Regions from separate parts of the Homo sapiens genome. Here regions 1, 3 and 4 are each linked to region 2. The links come from fine-mapping of genetic effects on gene expression. A gene starts in region 2. Each other region holds a variant in brackets. All regions are shown on one strand. Distances are between the middles of the regions. Region 1 overlaps CELSR1 (cadherin EGF LAG seven-pass G-type receptor 1). Region 2 holds the start of CELSR1 (cadherin EGF LAG seven-pass G-type receptor 1). Region 3 overlaps CELSR1 (cadherin EGF LAG seven-pass G-type receptor 1). Region 4 overlaps CELSR1 (cadherin EGF LAG seven-pass G-type receptor 1).

The links. PIP is the estimated chance that this variant, and not a neighbour inherited with it, causes the effect.
Region 1: its variant is the best candidate, but not a certain one, in a credible set for the expression of CELSR1 in lung (GTEx, PIP 0.75).
Region 3: its variant is the best candidate, but not a certain one, in a credible set for the expression of CELSR1 in whole blood (INTERVAL, PIP 0.88).
Region 4: its variant is the best candidate, but not a certain one, in a credible set for the expression of CELSR1 in unexposed skin (GTEx, PIP 0.62).

The regions. Positions count from the first base shown.
Region 1 is chr22:46,394,942-46,399,102 of GRCh38, reverse strand. It overlaps CELSR1 (cadherin EGF LAG seven-pass G-type receptor 1), which reads left to right. Exons shown (of 35, transcript NM_001378328.1): 11 at 466-579; 12 at 1,255-1,429; 13 at 2,357-2,498. Among named protein-coding and RNA genes, the nearest start is that of TRMU, 61 kb to the right of the region's middle. The variant G/T (reference allele first, on the strand shown) is at 2,311.
Region 2 is chr22:46,535,211-46,539,371 of GRCh38, reverse strand. CELSR1 (cadherin EGF LAG seven-pass G-type receptor 1) reads left to right here and starts at 1,752. Exons shown (of 35, transcript NM_001378328.1): 1 at 1,752-4,161. The coding sequence starts at 2,202.
Region 3 is chr22:46,419,850-46,424,010 of GRCh38, reverse strand. The region is part of intron 5 of CELSR1 (cadherin EGF LAG seven-pass G-type receptor 1); the gene reads left to right. Among named protein-coding and RNA genes, the nearest start is that of TRMU, 86 kb to the right of the region's middle. RefSeq lists a silencer at 2,688-2,737. The variant A/G (reference allele first, on the strand shown) is at 2,485.
Region 4 is chr22:46,480,831-46,484,991 of GRCh38, reverse strand. All of the region lies in intron 1 of CELSR1 (cadherin EGF LAG seven-pass G-type receptor 1), which reads left to right. It also overlaps the pseudogene FAM136EP. Among named protein-coding and RNA genes, the nearest start is that of CELSR1, 55 kb to the left of the region's middle. The variant T/C (reference allele first, on the strand shown) is at 1,656.

The DNA.
Region 1 (4,161 bases), 140 kb after region 2:
TCTTACAACACAGACCTGGGAGTAAATAGGTGTGTTCCAGGCACCTGCCTTTCTGGGACTGGATCTCAGCCGAGACCCTCTTGGGTTCCCACAGTGTTAATGAGTGAGCGGATTTCCGTTCACTGCAGTCTTCCTGACTCGCCAAGCTCTCTGTCACAGCGTGGCTGGTTTAGTGTTGTGCCCTTGACGGAGGCGGGACAGTTGCCCACGTTGACCCCACTGGCCGCCTCAGCTAGGCTGGGGCATGGACACCCATCCTCTGGCCTGGTCCCCTCGCCCTGGTCATCACAGCCAGCCTCGCTGTCCAGCTGGGCCCAGCTCTCTCTTTGGAGGCCCAGATGTCCTCAGGCTCTGCGGAGTTTGTTGAAGTGACTGTTTAGACTTCCAGTGTATCCTTCCCATCTGAGAGACGTTTCTAGGATGGTGGATGCAGCCCCCAGATCCCCGGCCCCTCTCTCCGCACAGAACAAGGCAGATATCGGGGGCATGCTTCCCGGGCTGACGGTAAGGAGCGTGGTGGTCGGAGGCGCCTCTGAAGACAAGGTCTCCGTGCGCCGTGGATTCCGAGGCTGCATGCAGGTGCGTGGGGGTTGTGGGGGGCGGGGGGAGGCCTGCCCCTCACAGGCAGCTCCGAGGCTGGCAGCACCATAGGTGGTTCCGTTGGTCAACCTGTTAGCTTTCAACGAGTGAAGAATTTGTCTGACAGGCATCCCCACTTTAACAGCTCCTGTTTCCTCTTCAGACCCATTCTCCCCTGCGGTTCCCCTTGGCATCCGGGCCGTCCCTGGCCCCCACAGCTCCCCACCGCCATGCCAGCCACCTGCCCCTCTGCCTTTGTGAAGTGTCCTGAATCGAGCCCCTTGCCGCCACCCCCACCCAGTCCAACCACAGACGTCACCCAAGTGGGCCCCGTGCCTGTCCCCTGGAGCCAGGGGTTCCAGCTACGGCCGAGGGAGCTGCTCTGAGTCGTTCAGCTCTCAGCCCCCTCGGCAGGGACATCCACTCCTCACGCCCCCACCGCGCACCCCAGGAGCTCAGGCTGGCGTGCCCTCTGAGCTCCTCACCCAGCCCTCCACTGCACTCCGGCCAGCAGGCCGTGGGGCAAGAGGAACAACCCTGCCCGCCCCAGCTCTGTAGATAAATGAGGCATCACAGATGAATGCCTCGCAAGGGACCAGAGAGGTCTCAGGGTTCCCTTAACCCCTACATACCTTTCCGGGCTCCTGTAGCCCCAGTGCCGTTTACTTAATGCAGGGAGTGAGGATGGGGGGGACGCCCACCAACGTCGCCACCCTGAACATGAACAACGCACTCAAGGTCAGGGTGAAGGACGGCTGTGATGTGGACGACCCCTGTACCTCGAGCCCCTGTCCCCCCAATAGCCGCTGCCACGACGCCTGGGAGGACTACAGCTGCGTCTGTGACAAAGGTGGGACCGCCCTCCCGGGGCCCTTCAGTGACAGGGAGGTCTCTTATGGCTGAAACACAGGAGGGGGGCTCAGTTTAGACATTAGCGTCCCCAGCCAACTCCCTGTGGTTCCGTGGAGCCCTGAGCTTTATTTTATAACAAGCGGGCCCCTCCTAGAGAGAGACTCTGAGCCTCTTCCTTACTCAAGGCACAGAGTGCCCCAGGCGCTCTCCTCAGCACATGGGGTGATCAGCAAAGAAACAGTGAAAAGTAAGGCCGGGTGCAGTGGCTCATACCTGTAATCCCAGCACTTTGGGAGGCCGAGGTGGGTGGATCACTTGAAGCCAGGAGTTCAAGACCAGCCAGGCAACATGGTGAAACCCCATCTCTACGAAAAAAAAAAAAAAAAAAAAAAAAGCAAAAATTAGCCAGGCATGGTGGCACGCATCTGTAGTCCTAGCTACGTGGGAGGCTGAGGTGGGAGGATCACTTGAGCTTCTTAGGCAAAGGTTCCAGTGAGCTGAGATCATGCCACTGCACCTCAGCCTGGGCAACAGAGCAAGACTCTTCTCAATAAATAAATAAATAAAAGAATTAGTGAAAAGTGCATATTAAGAAAATCCTCCATTCAGGGTGGCCTCAGAGTTTTGAGGTGCTTAAGTCATCTTCTGCTGGTGGCCATTCCCCATGTGTCCTGGGGCAGCCTGGGCCCCGTGTTCCAAGGCTCTCACCCTCCTTGGGGCAGCCCGGGAAGGCCTTCCTCTCTGCATCACTAAGTCTAACCCGCCTAACGCTGTGTTTTCGGGGACTCTGTGGCACTCTTCCTCTTCCCTCTGCTGAGTACCAGGGAAAGTCAGATCTTCTGGAGGGGACAGGTTGCTCCAGATATTTTAACGTGGAAG[G/T]TCTCGTGGATTGTGGGTGGAGGTAATGCTGGCTCTGTCCTTGCAGGGTACCTTGGAATAAACTGTGTGGATGCCTGTCACCTGAACCCCTGCGAGAACATGGGGGCCTGCGTGCGCTCCCCCGGCTCCCCGCAGGGCTACGTGTGCGAGTGTGGGCCCAGTCACTACGGGCCGTACTGTGAGAACAAGTAAGAGCAGCCCCTGGTGCCTCCCTGCACCTTCAGAGTCCATGTGGCTGTGTTCCCTCGACTCAGTGTCTTCTCTTTCTTATTTTGACCCAAAGATATGTGTGATTCTGGGTAACAGGGACATATTTTTTTTTAATTTGGCATGAATTAAGTGAAAATCAAATTTTTTTTAATTTTTATTTTATTTTTATTTTTTTGAGACAGAGTCTTGCTCTGTCACCCAGGCTGGAGTGCAATGGCGCGATCTTGGCTCCTTGCAACCTCTGCCTCCTGGGCTCAAGTGATTCTCCTGCCTCGGCCTCCCGAGTAGCTGGTCCTACAGGTGCCCGCCACCATGCCCAGCTAATATTTTGTATTTTTAGTAGAAATGGAGTTTCACCATATTGGTCAGGCTGGTCTCGAACTCCTGACCTCAAGTGATCCACCTGCCTCAGCCTCCCAAAGTGCTGGGATTACGGGTGTGAGCCACCACGCTTGGGCAATGAGAATCAATTTGGACGTCTCAAACTAACCCCATTGGATCATGTGTCCACACCTGAAACATGCAAATGACTCACCTGGAGTCCTCACTGGGCCCAGAGCAAACAGGCCCCATGAGATGCAGGGAGACGCATGTGGTTTACAGAGAATGCTTTCTCTGTCGAGTCGCTGGGCTTGAAGTCATTTCTGATGTGTGCGGAGATCCTAGTGTGGTTAGGACAGGCAGCAGCGTGCTCTCTGGGCTCTGGGCTCTGTACCCTTTGCACGGGGATCGCTGGGTACAGGTGCGTAGTCATCACAAGCGTCACTTTGTCCAAGGTGGAGCTGCTGGGTTCTTCATAAACCAAGGTTCCAGGCCGCCGTGGAGGTGATGCCCCTGTGGCTCATTGTCCTCAGCTGCTGGTGGCCATCAGGTGCAGGGACACCTGCTATGCTCCGTTCTTTGTCCTCCCGAGCCTAGAGCAGGTGCTGTGATCCCGGCTGTGACCCCATGAGTGGGAAGCAGCCTGTGCCCTGGAGCTGGTGACCTCACGAGAAGATGGCACCACATCATTCTTGGATATCAGCAAGATGTGATGCCAGGGAGAGCGCCGCGGAGGTGCCCTGGGAGTGGAGAGGGAGGTGGGAGCCAGTGTGGCTGAAGCGGGAGGGCATTCTGGGAGCGAAAGCAACAGAGCCAAGCTGGAGAGGAGTAAGGGGATGAGGCTGATCTAGAGAGGCCTGGGTGGGGACAGAGGTGGGCCCGCAAGCCAGGAACAGAATTCGGCTGTGTGGAGGCCGTGGGGGCCCAGCACTAAAGTGGCAGGACCTGGTCTTAGGGAACCCCCACCTGCCGCATGGAGCACAGCTTGGAGCAGGGGGAGTTGCCAAGAGGCTGATCCAGCATCTCCATGCCCGGCGCCACAGTCACCACTGCTGCAGGGGGATGAAGGTTCTGGGGCCCCCACGCTGCACACACACATCCATAAACGCCAGACTCTATCTCTGGCCTGGTTGTCTTTATGACCCTGATTTGTACACAGTCCTTAATACTTGCTCGCCAAGTGAGTGAATGCTAGAGGCTGGCAGCTGGGTGGAGGGAACTTGGTTAGCCAGGGGGGATTGCAGGAGCCCGCAGGACACTCGGGCGGGGCCGTTGCAGGCAGGTGGGCCTTCAGGTGACTGCGCAGGTGCAGCCCTGTCA
Region 2 (4,161 bases):
GCCTGGGTCCCCTTCAGGTCCGCCCAGTAGCCTTCCACTGGGAGGCTCCGGGCTCAGGGACCCGCCCTGCCTTCCGGCCCCAGAACTCCTGTCCTTTCATCCTTCCCGGAAAAATCCCAGTGGAAGGGTATATGGCGGGTGGGGAGGTCCTGGACCGCTCACATTAAGGAGACGGACTTTTCTCCTTCCTCCCCTCCCTCCACACACACATTTCCCAACAGGACTCTCCAGTGGAAACCTCGAATTAAAAGGTTCCAAAGCAACTCCACCTTTTAGATCAATATAACGTGTTCAAATCCTTGCTACTGGGAAGAAAATGCTCACATTGGGCTTCAGCACAAAGACACTGTTTCAGCAGCTTTGAGCGAAGTTGGCTGAGTATGCGTGTGACACACACACAGACACATCGCTCCGGGGGAGAAACCCTTCCGGTTCTCCACAGCCGCCCACGGTCCTCGTTGAGACTGGACTCATCTCAGCTCAGCTCAGAGATTTGGCTGCAGGATCCGACCCTCCCTTGCCAAAAAGACCCGTTCTAGGGGTGACTGCGCATTACTCCCACCCCCACCGCTCCGACCGGCCCCAGGAGAAGCCCTTCTAGGAGAGAAGAGGCGACCCCCACCTACCGTCCCCGACCACTGGGAGGCCTAAGGGCTGCACTGGACTCCGGCGCCCCGAGCGCCACCAAGGGAGTGCGCGCCCTTCCCAGCCGCTGGTGGCACAGTCCCAAAGCCCCGCCCATGCGGGGGGTCGCCAAGTCCTAAGCCTCCACCCCCTTTATCCCTGTGCCCCATCCGGAGGCAGGTGTACCCGTCACGCAAACCTAAAGCTGCCCCCGGCCCCCCGTGGTTCCCCGCAGGAGGCGGGGGTGTGTGTCACTTTTCTGAAAGCTCTAAGGTCTCTGCCCCCCGCCCCCCGCTGTCCTCCGTAGGAGGCTGGGCAGGGGCTGTGGCACAGCTCTAAATCCCTGCGGGTGCTTGCTTGCCCCAGGCAGCTTCCAGGACCCGCAGCCCCCCGCCTTCCCCGCAACCCGCTTCGGGAGGAGCCGGACGCTCGGGGATTCCGCGATGCGTCCGCGAACGCTCGGGTCGGGCCGCACGCGGGAGATGAGCGCGCCTCCGCCGTCCTCTCCAAATCCCTTATGTCAACCGGGGTTTTCTTCTTTCATTTAAAAGTTGCGCTTTAAACCAAGTGGGACGCAGATCCGGTAGCTGCCTATTGGGCTTCAAAGTCCAGGGAGTTTTAGTCGGGGTGAAGCATTTTAGCCTCCGTGCGTCTTGCTGTAAAATGGGTAACCCTCCTCGACAGCCTCCGCAGTCCTTAATGGGTGGGGGGGGGCTCCCCGGCCTCTCGGCCCCAGTCCTCCGCCCCCGGGTCCTACCCGCGCGGCACTCCTGGCGGCGGTCTCCGTGGATCTGTTCTGCCGGGGTGGGGAGCCAGGCTCTGAGCCGCGGCCCCGAGCCCGAGGTGCGGAGCCACCGCCCCACGGGTAGCGGCCACCGGGGGCCCCAGCCCCACCTTTCCCGGCCCTGTTGCCTCGGCCCCGCCCCACCGGGAGGCTGGGTGGGGAGGCCTCCGGGGAGTAGGGCCCCAGTCCCCGTCCCGGCCGCGCCCTCGCGTCTCCATAGCGATCCTCTCGGCGCGCACCTCCGAGCCGGCTCCCCCCGGGGCCGAACAATACGCCGCTGGGCCGGGGGCGGGGCGGGGCCGGGCCGGGGGCGGGGAGAGCGCGGGCGGAGTGGGCGCGGGCCAAGCGCACCGCCCAGGCAGCAGCCGGCCGCCGGGGTCTGCGCGGCGCGGAGCTGCCCAGCCCGCTCCGGGAACTCAGCCCCCGCCCCGCGCCGGGCCCGCCCCGCTTCCCACGCCCGTCCGGCCGAGCCCGCGCCGGAGCCACCTGGAGCCGCCTGGAGCCGCCGCCGCCGCCGCAGGTTGATGCGCGGCGCCCTCCCGGGACGCGCGGAGGAGCCATCTTGAAACCAACTTCGCAAACTTTCGCAAAGTGCTCTCGAAGTGGAAGCTGCGGGGGAGGCCGGGCGCGTGGTCCCCACAGTCCCCGCCAGGGCCCCCGGGGAGGCGGGACGCGGACCGCCCCGAGGGCCGGGCGCCCGGGAGCCGCTCCCCGGCCTCGCCGGGTGGATGCGGAGGCGCGCCGGGTGCATGGATTGTGTTCGGGCGCCCGGCTCGGGCTCGGGCTCCGGGCCATGGCGCCGCCGCCGCCGCCCGTGCTGCCCGTGCTGCTGCTCCTGGCCGCCGCCGCCGCCCTGCCGGCGATGGGGCTGCGAGCGGCCGCCTGGGAGCCGCGCGTACCCGGCGGGACCCGCGCCTTCGCCCTCCGGCCCGGCTGTACCTACGCGGTGGGCGCCGCTTGCACGCCCCGGGCGCCGCGGGAGCTGCTGGACGTGGGCCGCGATGGGCGGCTGGCAGGACGTCGGCGCGTCTCGGGCGCGGGGCGCCCGCTGCCGCTGCAAGTCCGCTTGGTGGCCCGCAGTGCCCCGACGGCGCTGAGCCGCCGCCTGCGGGCGCGCACGCACCTTCCCGGCTGCGGAGCCCGTGCCCGGCTCTGCGGAACCGGTGCCCGGCTCTGCGGGGCGCTCTGCTTCCCCGTCCCCGGCGGCTGCGCGGCCGCGCAGCATTCGGCGCTCGCAGCTCCGACCACCTTACCCGCCTGCCGCTGCCCGCCGCGCCCCAGGCCCCGCTGTCCCGGCCGTCCCATCTGCCTGCCGCCGGGCGGCTCGGTCCGCCTGCGTCTGCTGTGCGCCCTGCGGCGCGCGGCTGGCGCCGTCCGGGTGGGACTGGCGCTGGAGGCCGCCACCGCGGGGACGCCCTCCGCGTCGCCATCCCCATCGCCGCCCCTGCCGCCGAACTTGCCCGAAGCCCGGGCGGGGCCGGCGCGACGGGCCCGGCGGGGCACGAGCGGCAGAGGGAGCCTGAAGTTTCCGATGCCCAACTACCAGGTGGCGTTGTTTGAGAACGAACCGGCGGGCACCCTCATCCTCCAGCTGCACGCGCACTACACCATCGAGGGCGAGGAGGAGCGCGTGAGCTATTACATGGAGGGGCTGTTCGACGAGCGCTCCCGGGGCTACTTCCGAATCGACTCTGCCACGGGCGCCGTGAGCACGGACAGCGTACTGGACCGCGAGACCAAGGAGACGCACGTCCTCAGGGTGAAAGCCGTGGACTACAGTACGCCGCCGCGCTCGGCCACCACCTACATCACTGTCTTGGTCAAAGACACCAACGACCACAGCCCGGTCTTCGAGCAGTCGGAGTACCGCGAGCGCGTGCGGGAGAACCTGGAGGTGGGCTACGAGGTGCTGACCATCCGCGCCAGCGACCGCGACTCGCCCATCAACGCCAACTTGCGTTACCGCGTGTTGGGGGGCGCGTGGGACGTCTTCCAGCTCAACGAGAGCTCTGGCGTGGTGAGCACACGGGCGGTGCTGGACCGGGAGGAGGCGGCCGAGTACCAGCTCCTGGTGGAGGCCAACGACCAGGGGCGCAATCCGGGCCCGCTCAGTGCCACGGCCACCGTGTACATCGAGGTGGAGGACGAGAACGACAACTACCCCCAGTTCAGCGAGCAGAACTACGTGGTCCAGGTGCCCGAGGACGTGGGGCTCAACACGGCTGTGCTGCGAGTGCAGGCCACGGACCGGGACCAGGGCCAGAACGCGGCCATTCACTACAGCATCCTCAGCGGGAACGTGGCCGGCCAGTTCTACCTGCACTCGCTGAGCGGGATCCTGGATGTGATCAACCCCTTGGATTTCGAGGATGTCCAGAAATACTCGCTGAGCATTAAGGCCCAGGATGGGGGCCGGCCCCCGCTCATCAATTCTTCAGGGGTGGTGTCTGTGCAGGTGCTGGATGTCAACGACAACGAGCCTATCTTTGTGAGCAGCCCCTTCCAGGCCACGGTGCTGGAGAATGTGCCCCTGGGCTACCCCGTGGTGCACATTCAGGCGGTGGACGCGGACTCTGGAGAGAACGCCCGGCTGCACTATCGCCTGGTGGACACGGCCTCCACCTTTCTGGGGGGCGGCAGCGCTGGGCCTAAGAATCCTGCCCCCACCCCTGACTTCCCCTTCCAGATCCACAACAGCTCCGGTTGGATCACAGTGTGTGCCGAGCTGGACCGCGAGGAGGTGGAGCACTACA
Region 3 (4,161 bases), 120 kb after region 2:
GCTCTCCAAAACAACAAACTTGTGTTTTTTTTCTTTGTTTGTTTTGAGATGCAGTCTCACTCTGTCACCCAGGCTGGCACAATCTCGGCTCACTGCAACCTCCGCCTCCTGAGTTCAAGCCATTCTCCTGCCCTCAGCCTCCCAAGTAGCTGGGATTACAGGTGCGCACCACCACCACGCCTGGCTAATTTTGGTATTTTTAGTAGAGATGGGATTTCACCATGTTGGCCAGGCTGGTCTCGAACTCCTGACCTCAGGTGATCCAACTGCCTCAGCCTCCCAAAGTGCTGGATTATAGGCGTGAGCCACCGCACCCGGCCCATACTTGTTAATAGTGCTCATCGGATAGCTTTTTCAAGGTCATAAACTGCCTAAAGCATGGAGTCTTTTTTTTTTTTTTTTTCTGAGACGAAGTTTCGCTCCTGTTGCCCAGGCTGGAGTGTAAAGGCGCGATCTCGGCTCACCGCAACCTCTGCCTCCCAGGTTCAAGCAATTCTCCTGCCTCAGCCTCCCGAGTAGGTGGGATTACAGGCCTGCACCACCACGCCCGGCTAATTTTGTATTTTTAGTAGAGACGGGGTTTCTCCATGTTGAGGCTGGTCTTGAACTCCTGACCTCAGGTGATCTGCCCCCCTCGGCCTCCCAAAGTGCTGGGATTACAGGCGTGAGCCACCGCGCCTGGCCAGCATGGAGTCTTGATCAGATATTTATTATTCCTGGTGATGCAGTGGTTTGGCTGCTGGTTCTTCTGGTCTATGCGATTCAGCCAGGGCTGTGTGAAGGCCTCACTCATATGACCTGGCCGTTAGCCATGGCAGCTGGGGCCTCTCATCTTCCAGCAGGCCACCCTGGCCGTTCACTTGGTGGCAGGGGGTTCCTAGCAGCCAGAGAGGGCGAGTCCCAGTGCACGGTGCTTTCCAGGCCTTATCTCGTGTCCTTGTGCCCTGATGTCCTGTTGCCCAGGTCATGTGGCCAAGCCCAGCCTCTAGGTAGAGACATGGACCATTGGTGGCAAGAGCCAGGAGGTGGCATTGCAGAGGCCAGACGTACAGTGCAGGAGGCATCATCGTGGCCCTTATAGCAAAGGTGGATACCAATGGGAAGAAGAATGCAAAGTGAGGTGGATTTCGTGTTCCTTTTATGCCCTTCTGTGCCTTCTTACATGCACTTGAGTTCTTTGTATTTAAAAAAACAATATAGCAGTTATCTGGGTCATGGGACTATGAGCCATTTTTTTTTTTTTTGAGATGGAGTCTCGCTCTGTCGCCCAGGCTGGAGTGCAGTGGCGTGATCTCAGCTCACTGCAAGCTCCACCTCCTGGGTTCACACCATTCTCCTGCCTCAGTCTCCTGAGTAGCTGGGACTACAGGCGCCCACCACCATGCCCGGCTAATTTTTATTTATTTATTTATTTATTTTTTATTATTATTATTTTTTTTTAGTAGAGACGGGGTTTCACCGTGTTGGCCAGGATGGTCTCAGTCACCTGACCTCGTGATCCGCCCCCCCTTGGCCTCCCAAAGTGCTGCGATTACAGGTGTGAGCCACTGCGCCCGGCCCTGGTTTTTTCTTTTAAATATTCTGTTTAAAAAAATCATTTGAGGGCCAGGCACGGTGGCTCACGCCTGTAATCCTAGCACTTTGGGAGGCCGAGGCAGGCAGATCACTTGAAGTCAGGAGTTCAAAACCAGCCTGGCCAACCTGGCAAAACCCCATCTCTACTAAAAATACAAAAAAATTAGCCGGGCGTGGTGGCAGGTGCCCATAATCTCAGCTACTCGGGAGGCTGAGGCAGGAGAATCTCTTGAACCTGGGAGGTAGAGGTTGCAGTGAGCCAAGACCGTGCCACTGCACTCTAGCCTGGGCGACAGAGTGAGACTCTGTCTCAAAAATAAAACAAAAAAAATAAACAAAAAGATAATTGGATATACAGAATATGTAAGATAAAGAAGCTAAACTTTTACAAAGTTAATTAAGCCTTGCAAAGTATGTAAAATCCTTATGATAAAGGAGGTGGCCATGCAGGCTGGTAATTTTGCCCTCAGGGCCTTGTTGGCTTTGATTCTGTCTCATAGGAAGTTCCGTGTTTAAGAGGAGGGGATGGGGATGCTCCCCAGGTGTTCCGTGGCTGCGTGAAAGGTCACGCCCTTCGTGAGCTTCCCTGGCTTCTCCAGCCCCAGCAGGTGTTCTGTCAAATCCACTAGTGGGGCCTCTGCTAAGGCAGTCTGCACGTGCTCCCATCAGTTGGTGAAGTCGGCGGCCACTGCCTTTACTTACCCTGCATCTCGGACTCAGGATGTTCCTGCCTCCTTGAGCCCAAGTGATGGGGGCATAGAAGCCGATAGAGGGGTCTTCAGGTGGCTAGCGAGCTCTGCCAGAAAGGTGGTGCAGGGCCCTGCTTGCAGGCGCTGTGGCAGGTGGGGGCTGCCCCGATGCTGCTATGTGATGTGACAGATAAGTCACTTGGTTTCCGTTCCCAAACAC[A/G]GGCCTGGTCAGGTGGTAGAAAGTCACCTGCTATGGAAACGTGGTGATTCTCGGAGGCAAGCGCCGCCCCACCCTGGGCCTTTGTGTTACAGAACCCTGTTATGGAAAGTCGCCCCAGGGCTGGAGCAGCCCTCAGTTTCACGCCCGGCTGAGGTTGCTTCCTGTCTGGCATCATAGCCACTGTCCTCCAGCAGCCTCTGTCTCACCCCCATCCTTCCCACCCCACCCAACCCCTCACTGCTGGGGCTCTGAGATGCACTGTGCCACGGCTGCCTCCCTCCCCTCTCTGGGCTCCTGGCCTTTCCCGCCTCTACCCCCCCAGCACCTCGGCAGGGAGGGTGGTGGTGGCTGAAGTGTACTGGCTGATGTCCTGTCTTGTGCCAGGCTCATGTGTGTCCCCCACGTGATCCTCATGTTAGCTCCTGGAGGAGGAGGTGCTGTTGCTGTTTCACAGATGAGGAAACTGAAGCACAGAGTAGATGATGGGAGGGCCGGGTTTAGGCGGAGCCATGGACCCAGCATCTCTCACCCACCCGTGTATCCGCTGCTCTGGGACGTGCCATCCGAGGGCTGTCGCGTTTTCCTGCCGTGACCATCCCCGGCCCCCACCTTCTCCCTGTCTTATCCAGGCGCTTCCATGCTCTGTCCCCCAATTCAGCCCTCTCCCCACCTTCACCTTATCACACAGATACTGAGCATGTCACCCCTTAGTGGGATGCAGGCCAGGAGGGAGGGAGGCTGGTCAGAAAGGTCATCAGGGCAAGAAGAGGCAGGGGGACTAAGGAAGGGGGTCCCGCGGGCCCAGATCGAGGACAGAGAGGGGACTATTAGGTCTTTACAGGAGCAGGCCATGACTTTGTATGAGCATGTGTTAGTGTGCAAGACTGTGTGCAAGGTGAGTGTGTACAGGTGAGTATATTGTGCAAGCATGAGCACGAGTATGGGTGAGCATGTGTGCACACAAGTGTGTGCTAGTATATCTGTGTGTGCACATGCAAGTATGAATGATGTGAGTGGGTGTGTCCACGTGTGCACACGTGTGAGTGCATACGTGAGTGGGTGAGTGCACCTGGGTGAGTATGCATGTGTGTGGGTGTGTGCACGTGTGTGAAGAAGCACACGTGTAAATGTGTGGGTGAGTGCACATTTGAGTGGGTGAGCATGCACATGTGGGTAAATGTGCACATGAGTGCACGAGTGGGTGAGTGCATACGTGAGTGCACATGAGTGGCTGAGTGTGCATATATGAGTGCACGTGTGTGGGCGAGTGCATTTGAGTGTGGGTGAGCATATGTGGGTGTGAATGTGGGTATGTACGAGTGTGGGTAGGTGTGCACATGTGAGTATGAATGAGTGCACGTGTGGGTGAGGGCACATTTGAGTGGGTGAGTGTATATGTGAGTGTGAATGTGGATGAGTATGCACGAGTGTGGGTAGGTGTGCACATGTGAGTATGAGCGCACGTGTGGGTGAGTGCACATTTGAGTGTGAGTGTCGGTAAGTGCACGTGGGTTTTGAGTATGCACATGATTGTGGGTGAGTGTACATAAGGGTGAGTGCACGTGTGCGTGGGTGAGTGTGCATGAGTTTGGGTAAGTGTACGTGTGAGCGTATGAATAAATGCACATGAATGTGAGAAGGCACGTGTGGGAGTGCACATGTGGGTGTGAATGCGGG
Region 4 (4,161 bases), 54 kb after region 2:
AGGACTGGAATTTTCTCAGCAAATATTTAACTAGAAAAACGAAATCTCAGCTTTTCTGTTCTCAGCAGTTTCAATGCAAGTTGCAAATTAATAGACGTCTGGGCCAATATTTGATCTTTTCCCCCAAAGAAAATGATTTGCTCGCCATTCACTAAATTGGAGGGAGGCGTCCCTGGAAGTAACAAGGATGATATCCTTGTTCCTGGAGGTGGGCTTCGGTAGTGTTTGGAGACCTCAGGCAGCAGCCGGACCTCCCCAGCACCTGGGCGGGGTCCCTGTGAGCGCTCACTCCAGCATCTCTGATGGCCACAGGGTCTCTGGGGCAGAACCCCCATGCCCAGCCAAAACAGGTGCTGCAGTGAGTGGGCCAGGTAGCTCTCGTGGTATGTGAGCGCAGCTGCCCCTTGCCAGGCTGTCCCGGGCTGCCCCCAGCTCTAACTTGAGGCACTAACCCTATCAGGGGTCAGTGGCTTAATATAGCCTCTCCCTGGTATTTGCATTTCAAAAGAGGTCTCTGTGAAATTATTCTGGAAGGGATTTCAGGGCCCCTGAGTGGGGACACATTTCAGGCCTAGGAGGGGTGGCTCCTCCAAGTTCCTGGCAGATGCTGCAGCCTGCATTTCTGAGGAGGGCTGGGCCCGAGGCAGCTGCCACCATGGGCTGGGCTGGGCTGGTGGAAGGAGGGACTCTGTCCCCTGCAGGACCCTCCCAGCGGTCTTGCTTGGGACTGAGCAGCTGGGGCTGGTGGGCCCTGTGGATGCCAGGTTTACTGGTGCCCAGTTCAGACCTCGGACCCGTCCCCACCGTCGTAACGGCTCTCCCCAGCAGCTCCCCTTCTCTTGCCCTGTACCCTTGGATTTCTGGGCGGAAGGCCTGGGGCGCTCCTCCCTACAGGTGAGTCTGAGAGCCAGGGCAGAGCGTGGGAGCCCGTGGGAGCCTGGGAATGTTCTGTGCTCCGTGAAATTGACAGTTGTGCTCCTTTACCTGGAGGCAAGGGATGTGGCTTCTGAGCCTGTTGGTGCCAGTGCCTTTGTTGTTACACCTTTGCTCTTAAATAGGTACAAATTATTGGTATTAGAAAGCCTTGCAGCTCCATATCCTCATTAAGCCTCTGCAGTTAATAATTATTTTTCTCTCCTGAAAGTGTTGGTGTGAAAGAGCTGAGTAGACACGTGGAGACTGCAGGCCTCACTCTACCTTGGCAGGAAGATGGCGACCTGCATCCCCAACAGACAGCTGTGTGTCCTGGGCACAGTTCCTGAGCCTTTCTGGGCCCCACATCCCTTGTCACTGGGGTAGCAGAATCTGCTCTGCCTCCCTGGGTGGTTGGAGAGGCAATAGCAGATAATGGGAGCAAAGACTTACGTAGCTCTTGCAATCCTCAGGGGACTCCAGGAGGCAGGAAATCCAATCACCCGGTTTTACTGATGAGGAAACCAAAGCACATAGAGGTTAAGTGACTTGCCCAAGTTCACAGAGGAAGTGGGTGGCAGAGTGGGATTGTCAGGGAAAGCACCTTGAATGGAAAACCTGTGGGCTGCCACTGCACTCCAGCCTGGGTGACAGAGCGAGACGCTGTCTCAAAAAAAAAAAAAAAAAAAAAAAAGTCAGGAATAGCATGTTTCCATAAAGAGGGTGTGCTCAACTGTGAGGAC[T/C]GCGCCCTAGACACCCAGTGAGGCGGGTCTCACAGTTTGTGGCTTATGTTAATTAATGTCTCATCATTAATTTATTAATAAGGTTCTTTCTAAAGTCCTTGTTTTTAATGTAATCAAAATCATACTTTTTCCCCTTTACGATAGTGTGTTGTGTGTCATGTTTAAGAATTGCTTACCTATCTCAAGATCATAAACATGATTTTGAATGATCCTTGCTAAAATAGGCTTTGTCTTTCCTGCTTAAGTCCTTAGTTCACCTGGAATTGATGTTTGTGCTTGGTGTGAGGTAGGGATCCAGTTTCACTTTGTCCGTTATGTAGACAGCTGAGTGGCTTGGGACCATGTGTGGGAATGCTCCTCTTTCCCATTTGCCAGCTCTGTTGTGTGTGCGTGTGGACCTGTTTCTGGGCTCCATCTTCTGTCCATCAGTCTGTTGGTCTGCTCCATGCCAGCACTCCCTTGTCTACAGGCTATAAATCTTGACATCAGATAGAGCTTGTTCCCCTCCCCTGTTCTCCAGGGATGCCTTGGCTATTCTTGACCTATTGGTCTTCTGTGGAGATTAGAGAATCATCTTGTGAGTTCCCTATGAAGGACCCTGTAGATAATTTTCTTTTTTTTTTGAGGCGGGATTTTGTTCTTTCACCCAGGCTGGAGTACAGTGCACAAGCTCAGCTCACTGCAACCTTTGCCTCCTGGGTTCAAGTGAGTCTCGTGCCTCAGCCTTTCGAGTAGCTGAGTTTACAGGCATATGCAATCCCACTCTGCCACCCACTTCCTCTGTGACCTTGGGCAAGTCACTTAACCTCTATGTGCTTTGGTTTCCTCATCAGTAAAACTGGGTGATTGGATTTTCTGCCTCCTAGAGTCCCCTGAGGATTGCAAGAGCTACACAGGTCTTTGCTCTCATTATCTGGTATTGCCTCTCCAGCTACCCAGGGAGGCAGAACAGATTCTGCTCTGGCTGATGGCCCTTCCTCTGTCTTCAGGGCCAGCAGCATAGAATCCCCTGACTTCCTCTGTCCCCATAAGCTCTTTCTCCCACTCTTCCTCCCTCCTCTGCTTTTAAGGATCCTGTGGCCACCCAGATCCTCCAGGATACTCTCGTGGGTTAAGGTTGCTGGTGAGCGGCCGTGCCCCTGTGCCATGTGGCATAACGCAGTCACAGCTTCTGGGGATTGAGACATGCAGCTCTTCTTGGGAAGTGAGGGTGAGACATTATTTTGTCTACCACACATGGCCATGGCCAAGATTTATAAAAGTCAGCCGGGTGCAGTAGCTCATGTCTGTGATCCCAGCACTTTGGGAGGCTGAGGCTGGTGGATCACCTGAGCTCAGGAGTTCGAGACCAGCCTGTCCAACATGGCGAAACCCCATCTCTACTAAAAATACAAAAATTAGCCAGGCTTGGTGGCACATGCCTGTAATCCCAGCTACTCGGGAGGCTGAGGCAGGAGAATCTCTTGAACCCGGGAGGCAGAGGTTGCAGTGAGCTGAGATCACGCCACTGCATGGGCAACAGAGTGAGACTCTGTTTCAAAAAAAAAAAAAAGATTTAGAAAAGTTCAAATAACTGGGGCAGCACAGGGTTGCCACTGGGGAGCTGCAGCAGCTGCGGGTGCAGGAGGTGGTGGACTCCATGGTGAAGAGTCTGGAGAGAGAGAACATCTGGAAGATGCATTGTCTCATGTTCTGGTGCAGCACCAGCTGTTGTGAGGACAGTCAGGCCTCCACGGAGCAGGTGCACCAGTGCATCGAGTGCCACCATGTGCCTCTGGCTTAAGCCCAGGCTTTGATCACCAGTGAGCTGGAGAAGTTCCAGGACCACCTGGTCCGGTGCACCACGCATTGCAACGACAAAGCCAAAGATTCAATAGATGCTGGGAGTAAGGAGCTTCAGTTGAAGCAGAAGCTGGAAGGTGGTGTGACCAAGTGTGTGGATGACCACATGCACCTGCTCCCAACTATGACCGAGAAGGTGAAGGAGGCTCTCTCATCCATTGGGAAATAAAAGTCTTTGCCAGTGGCCATCGGGGCTGAGGGCAATAATGTATTTTTTATAAGGAATTGGGAATTTTAGTCTTTTTTTTTTTTGAGACATGGTCTTGTTCTTTCGCGCAGGCTGGAAGGCTGGAGTGCAGTGGCACGATCTCAGCTCACTGCAACCTCCACCTCCCAGGTTCAAGCCATTTTTCTGCCTCAGCCTCCTGAGTAGCTGGGACTACAGGCATGCACCACCATGCCCAAGTAATTTTTGTATTTTTAGTAGAGACAGGGTTTCACCATGTTGGTCAGACTGGTCTCAAACTCCTGACCTTGTGATCCACCCGCCTCAGCCTCCCAAAGTGCTGGGATTACAGGCGTGAGCCACCGGACCCGGCCGGAATTTTAGTCTTTTAAGCAAAGTTTATGAATGAAGAAATGAAGGATGGTCGTAAGTGTAAAGCATATGTCACTTGCCTCTGGACACTGGTTCTTTTATGTTTTAGTCCTAAAAAATGAAACG